Linked DNA regions of Homo sapiens. The protein of the gene in region 3 purifies or fractionates together with the protein of the main gene of each other region. This does not show direct contact. Each region holds a gene or a part of one and is shown on either strand. Other genes may lie near its edges.

Region 1 (4,316 bases), on a different chromosome or scaffold from region 3:
TAGGATTAAAGATCTTGTAAGTAGGAAAAAAATGGAGTCCCTGTATCTAAGCAGATAATTCAGAGAAAAAGAAAAAAAAAACACAAACATTCATAAATTTGTCCTTAGCCGTCTAGAGACAAGCAAGACAGTACTGAGATTCCTTCTCTGTGTATTATATCTTAAACAGTAAGAAGGCATAAGAAAGGAATAAACTGAATCATGATTCATCCAGATAAAAGTTAAAGTTTTCCAATTGTTTCCCTTAATACTATAATCGCCATCATAATTACAGAAATGGTGGACTATGACTGAATTCTCACCAATTTTTGTCATAACAACATTTTCCTCCTACATATTCCAGAAGATAGCAGTCCTTTCTATAGCTCATTCTAGCAATGTACTTAATCTGTTCCTGAGGTTATAGAGACTGTTATTTCAACAGTGCTCCTTCCTTTAAAAACAAGTGTCTCTTTTTGAGCTCCAAGTCTAAATGAATATAATAGCTTTCTTTGGTGACAGCCTAATTTACTGAGAATAGAAAGTATTGATATTATGATCAATCTATATAAAAACAAGGTCAGAGGCCGGGCGCGGTGGCTCACGCCTGTAATCCCAGCACTTTGGGAGGCCAAGGGGGGCCGATCACGAGGTCAGGAGATCGAGACCATCCTGGCTAACACGGTGAAACCCCGTCTCTACTAAAAATACAAAAAAATTAGCTGGGCATGGTGGCGGGCGCCTGTAGTCCCAGCTACTCGGGAGGCTGAGGCAGGACAATGGCGTGAACCTGGGAGGCGGACGCTTGCAGTGAGCCGAGATTGTGCCACTGCACTCCAGCCTGGGCGACAGAGCAAGACTCTGTCTCAAAAAAAAAAAAAAAAAAAAAAAAGGTCAGAAAAAAAAATTCAAGTCAACCTCTCTAATGGGTTTAATTTTATTAAATCAATTAAAATGAAATTCACCAATTTTATCTGCATTCTTTCCATGAATTCTGACAAATGTATAGTGTCATTACCATTACAACCATTATATAAAACATTTTTTCATTATAATAAAGGGTTTGGTTTTAATTATTGCTCATGCTAATGTAGATTAAGGGTTTTTTTAAATTTTTGTTTTGTTTTGTTTTGAGACAGGGTCTGACTGTTGCCCAGACTGAAGTGCAGTAACACAATCACAGCTCACTGCACTCTCAACCTCCTGGGCTCAAGCGATCCTCCCACCTCAGCCTCCTAAGTAGCTGGAACTATAGGCATATGCCACCACTCCTGGCTAATTTTTTTTTTTTTTAAATAGAGATGAGGTCTCAACTATGTTGCTCAGTCTGGTTTTGAACTCCTGGCCTCAAGTGATCCTCCTGCCTCAGCCTCCCAAAGTGCTGGGATTACAGGGGTAATCCCTGCACCTGGCCAAGTTTTTGATAGCTATATTTTCCATAGTCTTCTTTTTCACTAGTTCCCTATCATTTCCCCAGATAATGCATAAAAATGTATTATAACAAAGAATTCAAACCAGGGATAGAAAAAGCAAAATGCAATTAGGATGTTAGACATGCCCACACCTTCAATTTTTTCTTATTCAAATCAGTTGTACCTGTTTTAAGTAGAACCTGAATGACCAAGAAGATTTTTTTAATGTTCAACCTGAATCATTCTTATTTTTACCATGTCTATTCTAATTATAAGGGTCCAAAAGATTTAAAAAGTAACAGCAACAATGTTATTCCTGTCGACATATAACACATGTCAATGCCTGTGGTAGACAGGGAGCTGTGAGAGGTAGCAATGATGTAACATAAGAACTTTGGATTCACAGATCCAAGTTCAAATTCCAGCTTTGCCACTTATTTATGCATGTGAACATGAGTAAATTATTCATTCTCTCTGAGTCTCTTGACTACATTACAGAGCTGTTGTGATAATCAGGCAAGATGTAGAGGTAAATTATGTTACTTCCCCTCTTCTTTAATACACATGAGCACTGAAAGATTCAGCATTACTTCTGCTACTTATAAGAGAATGCTGTATTGTTAGCATATAAATATCTATAAGAAATATGTTAAGTAACACAAACAATTTACATCAACATATATAAGCAAATGTGACCTTTGCTAGTGACAACCTCTCTGAATTCATTTCCTCCTCTATAAAGGAAGGTATTACTAATCACAATATAGCTAATCATGTACTGGGGAACTACAAAGTGCCGGAAACACTTTGAGATGCTTAACATGTATTATCTCTTATTCTTAAAATGATTCTGAAAGATAGACATTATTCCCGTTTCATAATCATTTAAAGCCTTGCTACTGGAAGTGTGTTGTGTGAACCTGAAACTGCATCACTATAACTTGAGAACTGTTTGAAACACAGAAACTAGGCCCCTCCTTTGCAATATAACAAGATCTCCAGATTATTCATATGCACATTATGGTCTGAGAAATCACTGATCTAATGTTCCTCCCAACTCTGCAATTCAGTAAGTCAAAAAGCAATATAGATCAATTACTGAACACTACAGCCAGGGCAAGCCTTGCAGTCCCCAAGTGGTGTGCATTCGTTCCCACAGCCCCACCAGGAAGCAACGTGCCTGCAGCCCTGAGCCGGATGACCTGGGGACCAGCAGGGCAGCCATGGTGAGGAGAGTGAGGATGCGGGGGCCGCTCCTGCCAAGAAGGCCCCGGCCAGATAAGACAAGCCCAAGACGCTGCCCTTCTTGCTGCTGGGCAGTTGGTCAGTATCCAGAGCAACGAGGCTGTGGCCCTACTCAAGACTCATGGCCTGTAACATGTCCATGGGCTTTGGTGAGAGTTGGAAGAAGCACCTCAATGGAATTCGGGAAACGTTATTTTATCAAGATAAAAGGATTTGTCGCAGAAGAAAGGAAACATTACACTGTTTATCCACCCCCACACTAAGTCTTCACCTGGACCCAGATGTGTGACATAAGAGATGTGAAGGTTGTCATCCCAGGACAGGACCCATATTAGAGACCGAATCAAGTTCATGGGCTGCTTTAGTGTTCAAAGACCTGTTCCACCTCTGCCTGGTTTGGAAAACATTTATAAAGAGCCATCTACAGATATGGTTTTATTCATCCTGGTCATGGAGATTTATCTGGGTGGGCCAAATAAGGTGTTCTCCTACTCCAGGCTGTCCTCACTGTTCTGCCCCATCAAGCCAATTTTCATAAGGAAAGAGGAGGCTGGGAGCAATTTACCAATGCGGTTGTGTCCTGGCTAAATCAGAACTCGAATGGCCTTGTCTTTCTGCTCTGGGGCTGTTATGCTAAGAAGAAGGGCAGTGCCATCCACAGGAAGCAGCACCATGTGCTGCAGATGGCTCATTCCTTCCCGTGTACAGAGGGTTCTTTGGATGTAGACAATTTTCTAAGACCAATGAGCTCCTGCAGATGTCTAGCAAGAAGCCCACTGACTGGAAGGAGCTATGATCCTGAGCTGAGGAGTAGTCTGTCTCCATTGGTGGTTATTGGGAAGCTGTTGTTAAAGTATTTGTCACTTACAAAATCAAACTGAAAAATTTCCTATTAATTCTTAAATACTCTGCATAAGGGGTAAAGCTTCCATAAAGCAGCCATGAACCAGGTTGCCCAGAAATGGCAGCTTTATATAGCCACACATAGCAAAGACTATCCTTTGGCCAAATGTCTCTACAACATGGCTTCAGCCTAAAATATGCTAACTTCTCAGAAGACAGATGAAGTCAAATGCTCACTTGGCTCTCTTTACCCCACACCCCGCCCCCCGCCTTACCTTTATGGTTAAAGGGGGAAGATATATACCCTTTAGGTAGAACCATAGTTTGATGCCTGCTGTTACTTGGTTTTGCCTAGTTAGACTTTCAACTACAAGGTATTTTAGGGGGTGTTTTTGTGTAGAAAGGCCCCCTTTTCCCAGCCTGGCAGGCATTCCAGTCTCTGCCAAGTACACTTATACTCCCTTGATCTTTCAAGGGGCCTTCAGGTCCTTCCTTGAGGGAACTATGAGGGTTTTGCAGGTTTCTAGAAATCTGGCCGTGAAATTAGGGCTCAATTTTCTGATTGTAGTAAAGGTGAAGACTCCTAAGGAACAGCGCTTGGTGTTGGCCTTAACAGACAGACAAGGGCTGAGGGATGTGAACTGAGTCTTGTTATTCTTTCGGCGTTTTGTGGAATAAGCAGTGAAATTTAGACAAGAAAGAATAGAAAAGAGAATTCTTCTTTAATGGGGGGAGGTGATTTTCTCCTAGGGTTATCCTGAGTTGGGGTTTTTAAGATAGCACAAACTGCTGCATGCTGTTTTTTATGGACTGAAATCAATTTATAATATTTTTTTC
Region 2 (3,569 bases), on a different chromosome or scaffold from region 3:
TTCAAATTTAACAGATGGTTTCGGTAATGTTCCAGGAGCAAGGGAACTCTCTCCCATAATTTTCAGGTTGATAAATTTGATTTTCCAAGTATTCTCCACAAAAGGGCAGCGGATGAGTCCAAAAATTTGTTCAAAAATGCCCAAACAAGTGTTTCCTCGATGGACAGTCCCAGCAACTCCAACCATAACCAGCCCATGAGGAGAAGATGCACATTTCAGTCCATGTGAATCTAGGTTGGGGCTGAGAAAAAGAAATTCTTCTTTTACTAGTGACAGCAAACGAAGGCTCACGATTTCTGCTCCATGGTAGTCCATAACATTTTGTTCTGATGTGTTGTAATAAAACCTAAGCTTCACATCATGCCAGAAGTGCTGTGGTCCCCATTCATCTTGAGGTGGTCCTAGAAAAGGATTCTGAGAATTAAGAAGTCCAAAGAACCAATGACAGAATTCTTCTCCTAGGCGACGAAAATCAACTTTTTCAGCTTTTTTATCTTCTTTCACCTGCTGATTGAAACAAATAAAATAAATACAAAATAACACTAAGGTTTAACTTTCATATCTATTTTTCTATCTAGCCTATTAAGTTTGAATGAACCCATTACACCAGAGAGAAATGAACCATATGTGAACTTGCTGAACCCATTATGCATAGTAAAAATCTTTTTTCAAGAGGAGAAAAATCATTTTAGAAATTTCCAGCTTAAATTGCTGAAAATTCAGCTAAGAGAGTAAGGTTTAGTAAGGCCAATTTAAAAATCAGTATGAACTTGGCGGGCGTGGTGGCTCACGCCTGTAATCCCAGCACTTTGGGAGGAGGAGGCAGGCGGATGGTGAGGTCAGGAGTTTGAGACCAGCCTGGCCAATATAGTGAAACCCCGTCTCTACTAAAAATACAAAAATTAGCCGGGCATGGTGGCGTGTACCTGTATTCCCAGCTACTCAGGAGGCTGAGGCAGGAGAATCACTTGAACTTGGGAGGTGGAGGTTGCAGTGAGCCAAGATAGCATCACTGCACTCCAGCCCGCGCAACAGAGCGAGACTCCGTGTGAAAAAAAAAAAAAAATCAGTATGAACAGTCATATATAAAAATATATAAATTATATGATGATTTATGTAAGTGTTTCCTCAGATTGTGGCAGTGTTTTCACAGGTATATATGTATATCACAGGTATATATGTGAAAACCTTCAAAACGTTCACTTTAAATGGATGCATTTTGCATATAAATGACATAAAGTTAATATAAGCAAGCATTTTCATTGTCTTTAAATAGATACTCTTACGGTGATTGAAACAGGTTATTTTCTATAACTGGGATTAATTTTATTCTATTATTTCTCTTTTTTCACAGAAAATGTTACTGTAAGCTGGGCGTGGTGGTTCATGCCTGTAATCCCGGCACTTTGGGAGGCTGAGGCAGGCAGATCACTTGAGGTTAGGAGTTCAAGACCAGTCTTGACAACATGGTGAAACCCCGTCTCTACTAAAAACACAAAAATTAGCTGAGTGTAGTGGCGCATGCCTGTAATTCCAGCTACTTGGGAGGCTGAGGCAGGAGAAGTGCTTGAACCCAGAGGGTGGAGGCTGCAGTGAGCTGAGATCATGCCAACTGTACTCCAGCCTGGGTGACAGGGCAGACTTTGTCTCAAAAAAAAAAAAAAAAAGTTACTGTAAAAATCTACCTGATACACTAGATCTCATTCATCCATGTGTTCCACAACACAGTACTTTACTGAGATGTATGAGATCTTAGGTTTACTGAGCACCTGCTATTTAATACACTGGGCACTGTGCGTGGCACTGGTTATTTGCCTAATTTAACACACCTAGTATATTGCAGACCCTAATTTGAAGTCGTATTTGTATGATTTCAAAGTCAATGCTCTTATCAGTACATAAAGTAAGAAAGCTCTTAAAGATTCTTTCCTAGTGTGAAGGCAAAGCTTTCTCACTGTGAAACCTCATTAATTCAAAAAATGTGGTATGTAGTTTAAAAATCTGCAAATTACATAGAGGTTAATTCAAGCAACACTTAAATATTTGTGCAGTATCTAAAATGTACAGTGGAGATAATATAAAGAACAGAAACAGCCAATGTCCGCTGGAGAATATTTCTACAATAGGACTTTTTCTAGTTAAAAAAAAAAAAGTATAAAAAATATTTAGGTTCCAATGTGGGGGCGGGGGCATCAAGAAAAATAGCTAACGCATGCTGGGCTTCATACCTAGGTGATAGGTTGATAGGCGCAGCAAACCACCATGGCACATGTTTACCTATCTAACAAACCTGCACACGTACCCTGGAACTTAAAAGAAAATTTTTTTTAAAGTAAAATTTTAAGTTCCTTTCATGACATTTTTGCAATACCAAAAACGTCTTAAAAGTGAGAAAGAATTTGCAATAAAATTCTTCTAAAGTGAAAAAAAATTACACGGAGCTAAAGTTAAAATTAACCTTGCAGTTTACTCTCTAAAAATCCAATAGTCCTCATTTGATGATGCTGATATTGAAAAATACTTTCTCACATATCAATAGATGATTATATATGCATCACTATATGTCAGAAATATTTTTGCTCTTAGTTGCTTTACTGGTCTCTTCCTTCCTTCAGGATTGATAGGATATGAAATAAAGTTAAAATTATAAAATATAAAAAAAATAGGCTGGGCATGGTGGCTCATGCCTGTAATTCCAGCTGAGGCGGGAGGACCACTTGAGGTCAGGAGTTCAAGACCAGCCTGGGCAACATAGTTGGGACCCTATCCCTACCAAAAAATTTTAAAAATTAGCCAGGCATGGTGGTGCATGCCTGTAGCCCTAGCTACTCAGGAGACAGAGGTGGGCAGAACACTTGAGTCCAGAAGTTCAAGGCTGCAGTGAGCTATGATTACACCACTGCACTCCAGCCTGGGCAACAGAGCAAGAATCTCTTAAAAAATAAAAATAAAAAAACCCCACAAACATTATTAACCATGTTCCCCACAATCTAGGATTATCAACAAAGTTTCAGACAGAACAAAGGTTCAGAATACAACCATAAGATTTATTTTACCTGTTGAAATAGGTGGATGTCCTCTGTCTTTGTAACTGGCTCTGGCGTTTCCTTCAATTTCAGTTGTGGTTGCTTTTGCCAGTAATCTTTTGCATGCTGAATAAGATTGTGTTTTTCAGTAGCTGGAGGTATAACAATCCCCTGTGTTGCCAAGTACTTAAATATAACTTCTCGGTGGACTTTTCTACGCCTCAGAAGTTCTTCTGCACTTTGACTGTATGCTAATATTGCATGAACAGCATCTAGAAAGAAATTGCAAAGATTAATAAAAAATCATGAGGCACTTACAAATTTGTGCCAGGTGGGCAGAAACTCTATCAAATATGTTTATAAACTCTCGTCACAGCATTATTGCTGTTACATGATAGTCATCATTTTTAAAAAATAGGAAGTCCGTTGTCAGTTTTCTTTTAACATCTTTATGCCTTAAACTTCCCTTACCTAAAATCTCTTCTGTTCACTTCCCATAAGTGATAGTGAAAGTTTAGCATTTCCTCTTAAAGAATTACATTT
Region 3 (6,204 bases):
GCTAAAGAATAACATTACAGTTTCAAGGCTATGTATTCAGTCAGGGGCAGAACTGGGCCAAGAACTGAGGCCTTCTGACTCAATAATTAATGTAGTTACTTTTTAAGCTTCTATTATGTTCTATGGAGTAACAAAATGAGTAAGATAAACTCTTTGCTTTAAAGGGCAAGTCTAGTGGGGTAATTATAATGCCTGACAAATATATTAAGATTTTACGAAGCATTTTTCCCACATTTCGTCAGTATTAACATAACTATAAAGAGAGAAGACGGACATTCTCCACAGTTCAGAAGGGAACCTATTGGGGATTCAATTCACCAGGGACTTCAGGTGAATCTAAAGGGCTTTGTTACCTTGAAGACTCTAGCCCACCAGCAACAACTGGGGCCTTAGAGGGTGCAGGACCCTGGAGAGGGGGCACAATGCCCAACAGATGTGGCATTACCCAGGGGAAAGTGGCAACTATCTCTCAGCTTCCTGTACCTATTTTTAGGCACAGGTGAGACCTCCCTCCGCAACACTCCATACCCTCACCAACTGTCTGACTTGGTACTGTTAGTGCAGGGGAGAGGGCAGGAGCCAGCCTAACATAGGTCACAGACTCAAGCGTCACATCTGATCTACTCCACAGCCCTGGGAGGTAAGTTTCAGCCCCATTTCACACAAGGCTGTCTCTTATAGCAATGAATCTGTAGTAACTGCCAGGTTGATTCCTCCAACTTCAAGTCCCAGGGGTAATGTGAGTTTTATCTATCATTTTGTGTTCTAACAAGAATTTTGTCTCCACTGCCTTAATATGATCAATGAATAGTTCTTTTGATTGCCTAGTATTTACTATTTTCCTATTTTGTTTACCTTTTATTACTTCCTTTAAAACAAAAATAGCCTGTGCTTTTTAGATTTAAAAGAAGTACAGATGAGAAAAAGAATAATTTTCAGTCCCACCACACAAAGAAATTCATGATTTCTCTTTGATCTACTCAATTGCATAGTGTCCCCCATGTATGGATATATTATGTAAACATTTTTTTTCAGAAATGGGCTGATACTGTATACATGGTTCTGAAAACTCTTTTTTATTGTTATTTTACAATGTACCATGAACATTTATTCCATGCACATGGGTGAAAATCCTCTACTAAAAGACAGAGCACTGTAGTTGGGTCAAAAGTCTGCTGGTAACAAGAGTGACACCTAAAGGAAAGTATCAGCTTAAGGTTAAAGCACATAGGCCGGCAAATGCCTGCCAGGAAAAGCAGGACTGGCAATATTCCCATCAGAGAAATCAGAATTAAAGGCCAAAGACATTAAACATATGGGACATCTTCTAAGTCTTTCTGGCCCCTACCTCCGCCCCTCACTCCCCTCACACCCCGTTGGCCCCTTGGGGCGAATGGATCCTGTACATCTCTTTGCATCCAATGAAAACCACCCATTTTCTGTTTTTTCCTTAGCTCCTCCTGAGCCCTTGACACATCTCCACATTCTCTCATCATCTCCTCACTGCTCAGATGCCTTTCTTGTAAGTCCTCCTGAGAGTCCTTGGGGGAATCGTCCGTCCCCCTGTCGGTTTTTCTTTTTGCTTTCCGGGGCACATAATCTTCAGCCGGGCGCTTTTCGGCGGCCCGCGGCTGGCTCTCTGGCTTGGCCTGGGAGGCTGGCTTGCCCTCACTTTGTGGCTTGTCCTCACCTTCAGACTTGCCCTGCTTTTCCTGGTTTCCCTCATCTTCCAGTTGTCCCTCATCACCTGGCTCTCCCTCATCCTCTCGCTTTCCCTCGCATTCTGTCTTCCCCTCCATGTCCGGCTTTTCTTCCTCGTCTGACTTTCCTTCATCTTCTGTACTTCCCTCATCCTCTGGCTTTCCCTCACTTTCTAGGTTTCTTTCATTCTCTGGCTTTCCTTCATTTTCTTTGTAGAGCTTTTCCATGTTGAGATGTTCCCTTCTTTGCCTTTCCTAGGAGACAAAAAGAAGACACAGGACACTGAGGGCTTTGGGGGTTGAACACAGGTCCTTATAGTACTTGTCTTTCTTAACTTAGGGTTTTCCTGGCCCTATCCCATCTTCCAGGTGCACTCCCACCCTTACATTCCTTCCTTTCCTTTTCACTTTACACATGTTCACACAAGCCAACCTTACAGAAACTTCCACAGGTGCTTCTCCCTACATTTAAGGAGGATGTGCTGAGAAATGCGTAGGAGCATATTGGCCCTTAAACTTTGCTCTGGCCTTGGCTATGCCTACCCATACCAATTTTAACTGGGTAGTTCCAATTTACACGGACCTGCAGAAATCCTGGGCAGTTTTCTTCTTTTTCCCCTTGCATGCAGTTGTAAGACTTATAAAACTGCAGACAGAACAGAACCATAGCCAGTTCTCAGATTTCAGGGCTACCCTTATGTCCTCAGGGGGCATCACAGATGCTACACCTCCATTCTCTTACTTTCTTATTCTCCCCTCTATCCTCACCAGCCATAGATCACCATATCCCCTTAGGGTCTTGACAGCAGTCATGTATCCCGAAACTGCAAGAGGGAGGATTGGAGGAGGGGTGGCAGGCAGTGGCCTCCCCAACTTCTGCTCTGGCTTAAGTTACTCCTACTCCCAAGGGTCCTGGTGCAGTAGCCCTCTCCCACTGACCTGCACCGATACTGCAGGTCTTTCCTTTTCTTGTCTGGGTTAGTGCCCACAACCACAGACTTGAAGACCTGCAGAAAGACAAGAAACAGGTGGGTGAATGAGAAATTGAGAAAGTGAATGACTGGTAACTTGGACACTGGTTCTTTGGGACCGTATTTGTCAAAACTTTCCGAGCTCCTATCACCTCCTCGCCTTTTCCCTTGCATTCTCTGATTCCCCCTCCGCGCGCAGCTCTTTCTTAAGAGCCTCCATTGTTCTACTTGTGGGAAATAGGCGAGAAAGATTATTTCCAAAGCGTTTCTATGTTTCTGAATCTTCCTCCCAAATTTTTATCTCACTTTTCTGGCACGAAAATGAGTAGGGTTAGAGACAAGGATGTTCTGAAGACAGAGTGTTCTGATGCACTCAGATCTCTACATTCCAAATCCCTCACCCTAGGGTAGCCAAATAGCAGAGCCCACCACTTCTCTGAAAATGGTGATGACAGAGATAGGGGGCAGGGCAGAAATGTCCAAAACACTCCTGCCACCTCCTCCCTCCCCACATACACAGAAAGCCCACATTTTTCTGCAATGCAAGAGACAAATTATTTCCAAACCCGGTAACATTTTTGGTCTTGCTGCTACCTCATCTCAATCCTCCTACTTCAGAAGCCACTCCTCCTGGATAGGGAGCTGATCCCCAGATCAAACCTCTGTCTCCCTTTTTCTACAGCACCTCCTTCCCCTGACCCCCTTAGCCCACCGTTTCCGGCTCCAAAATGGAGGGAGGTTGGAGAAAAGACACAGGGAACTCAGGCCTGGACCCGTTGCAGGGTCCGCCCTCAGCAGCCTGGGGTCACTGACTGTGCCCGCCTCCCGCTGCCTTGCAGGGATCAGGCCGTTTTCTCGCCGTTTCGTCGCTGTTCTCTTCCCTGGTCCTCCTCCTCCTCCATCAGACATCACCCGGTCGCCGGCTTCCTAGGAGTTCCCAACTGGTACCCAATTCTCAACCCTTGACCTCTCTCGAGTTCCGCCCCCCTCCCCCCTCCCCGCCCCGCACCAAGCCCTCCATTTCTTGCACCAAATGAGTGAGCATCGGGAAAGGAGTGGAGAGAATCCAGTCCTGGACCCGCTCTGGTCTTTGCCCTCTGCCATCCCAACCACAGGGATCCACAGGCTGTGGATGGGTTCGTAGCCATCTCGGGGAAATGACTCTTTCTCACATTTCCTTCTGCCAGAAGCCTGCACTTCTCCAGGGAAATAAAAGCTGGTACCCATACCTCTTGCCCAACACAAAAAAATTTCTGCGCCAAAATGAATGGGGGTGGAACAGGGCGGTATCTAGAAAGCAGATCCGATCCTCTGTAGCCTATGTGCATTACCATCCCTACCTCAGGGGTCCCCGGCTTGTACCGACCTGCAGGGCTGTAGGGCAGTTGCCTTCTCTGTCCTTCAGTCTGAAGTCTGCCTTCCTCCACGGAAACAGGGATCTGGTACCTGGAGGAGAGGGACTTCTGCACACGTCGGCTTCAGATCACGTGAGAAAAACGTCACCAGTGGGCTCGGGTCCCTAGTTCCCCTCCCACCCGCAGAAAGTGCGTCAGGAGCCAGCCCACTTCTTCCCTTCACTAGTCTGTCCGTCTGAGCGCCCTCAGCACCCCCAACCCCGGCTTAGCTCTCTCTCTCGCCCCACAGCACGGGGCCCTGTCACTCATTTTGGTCTTTGCTAATCCCACAGGTCAAATGTGGCCCTTTCTCTGTGTAGTATGTATTTATTCTTCCGTGGTTATCAGGGAGGGACCGCACCTTCTTCTAGAGCTATTGGCCATTGGTACATCTCAGAGGAATTTTTTTTCTTTCTCTCCTTTTATCCGAAGGCACCTACTCGATCTAATTCTACACGCAGCCACTGATGTTCATTCTGCCTGTGAACCAGACCTTCTCATAATGGGTACAAGGTGGATTGTCAAGTAGGGACACAAGTAGTTAAAATAGGGGTTTTATTTTTTTAAATTTTTTTGATCTTATTTAATTCACTCTCCTCAGCATGGGTTATTCTTATAAGCACAAAATTAAATAAAGCTATTTCATTTATGAGAAAGTGTTTAAGAGAGAGAAAAACTTAAAAGATTTCAAAATTTTCTACTCAGAAGAGAGACCAAATTAGGTTCATAATATTAACTTTTGCCATATACACAAGGAATTCAATTGGCAACAAGCAAAATATACATTAGAAATTTTTCATAAATAGCTGGTTCTCTCACGTTCTATTTAACACACACACACACACACACACACACACACACACACACACACACACACATTTAATGTTCCCAAACGATTACTGAGTGCTAAATAGACTTGCTGGAATCTGATGGTTGAAAGAAAATTCAAAAATGTCTCTTTAAAAAATTTGGCTCATGGCTATTTTCATTCAAATGTTTAGCTCTAGGGGAAGGGAAGAGCTGTGAGACCAAGGCTGCAGGAGATGTGAAGGATGCAGAAATGGTCCTATCCTCCCTGCCCTGCCAAGATCAGGGGAAGGTGTTCTTCTCCACCCCCTCATATTCTAGAATTTCTCATCCCCTGCATTTCTCATCCCCAGGCACATGACTCTGTTGCTCAAGAGTCATCTGTCCAAGAATATAACTGGACAGGTGACCAAGGTGGTGATATGAGTAAATGCCTTTGGCTCCTTCCCTCCTCCCTCCCCCTAATTCCCACAGGGATAACCCAGCCCCAGCACAGAGTGGAGCATTGTTCATGCCTCTAGAAAACTAGAACAGATCTCTTCTAGACCCTTGCAGCTGAGGGTGTTCATGAGGCCTGAAGTGATTGCTGGGGTAGAGTCCCCTGCAACCTGCCTGCTCTCTGCCCTTATTCACAGTGCCTGAGTGGAAGCCTCCCTAGACCCTGTCTGTTACCTCCCGCCTAGCCTAAAAAGTGCAGTCTGGCGGGCCTCTCACCCCCAAACTCTGTATCTTCAGGGAACCCAGAGGGAGCCTAACCTTGCTGCAGGATTGCTGCCTGCCAGTCCATACTAACCTATGACTGTCTCAGCAAATTTAGGCCAGTGTCTAAGGAGTTCTGCCATGCTGTCCATATTGACCTAGACCAAGTATTCCCAATTGATGAAGTCTGTGGGCCACCTGAAAGGGCATGTAAAATTGCATATGTTTAGGAAGTAGTGGAGTATGCACACTCTTGTGAGAAGAAGATCTGTACCCTAGGAGCCTGAATAGTGTTTTGTTCTATTTGCACACCCCATTCTGTTTATCCATCATATGTTGATGAATATTTAGGCATTTTCATCTTTTAGCTGTTATAAATAATGCTGCCATATACAATCACGTATAAGTTTTTGTGTGGATGTATGTTTTTATTTTATATAAGCAAGTTGACATCATGAAAAAGAGGAAACCATAAAGGACAGAAAGAAGAAGCTACTTGACAAAGAGATAAGAAGGGGAAGACACAAATAGCAGCTGAGCCATGTTAAAGAGAGCTCATCTATTCCTTGGGTTCAGGCATTATTAAACTATGAATCCCCTAAAATTATGTTCAAACTTGTGTGTGTGTGTGTG

What was found.
Region 1: the proteins of TCEAL5 (region 3) and KLHL8 purify together in Homo sapiens (affinity purification with mass spectrometry; one large-scale study listed by BioGRID and IntAct). This does not show direct contact.
Region 2: the proteins of TCEAL5 (region 3) and C3orf38 purify together in Homo sapiens (affinity purification with mass spectrometry; one large-scale study listed by BioGRID and IntAct). This does not show direct contact.

Annotation. Positions count from the first base shown.
Region 1 is NC_000004.12:87,164,303-87,168,618, forward strand, and holds part of KLHL8 (kelch-like protein 8), read right to left. Parts: intron 3,630-4,316; exon of another isoform or gene 2,544-3,629; intron 1-2,543. UniProt on the Homo sapiens protein: Substrate-specific adapter of a BCR (BTB-CUL3-RBX1) E3 ubiquitin ligase complex required for The BCR(KLHL8) ubiquitin ligase complex mediates ubiquitination and degradation of RAPSN.
Region 2 is NC_000003.12:88,152,959-88,156,527, reverse strand, and holds part of C3orf38 (uncharacterized protein C3orf38), read right to left. Parts: intron 3,299-3,569; coding exon 3,057-3,298; intron 508-3,056; coding exon 1-507.
Region 3 is NC_000023.11:103,272,636-103,278,839, forward strand, and holds TCEAL5 (transcription elongation factor A protein-like 5), read right to left. Parts: upstream 4,116-6,204; 5' UTR 4,038-4,115; intron 2,708-4,037; 5' UTR 2,640-2,707; intron 1,956-2,639; 5' UTR 1,929-1,955; coding exon 1,308-1,928; 3' UTR 1,056-1,307; downstream 1-1,055. UniProt on the Homo sapiens protein: May be involved in transcriptional regulation.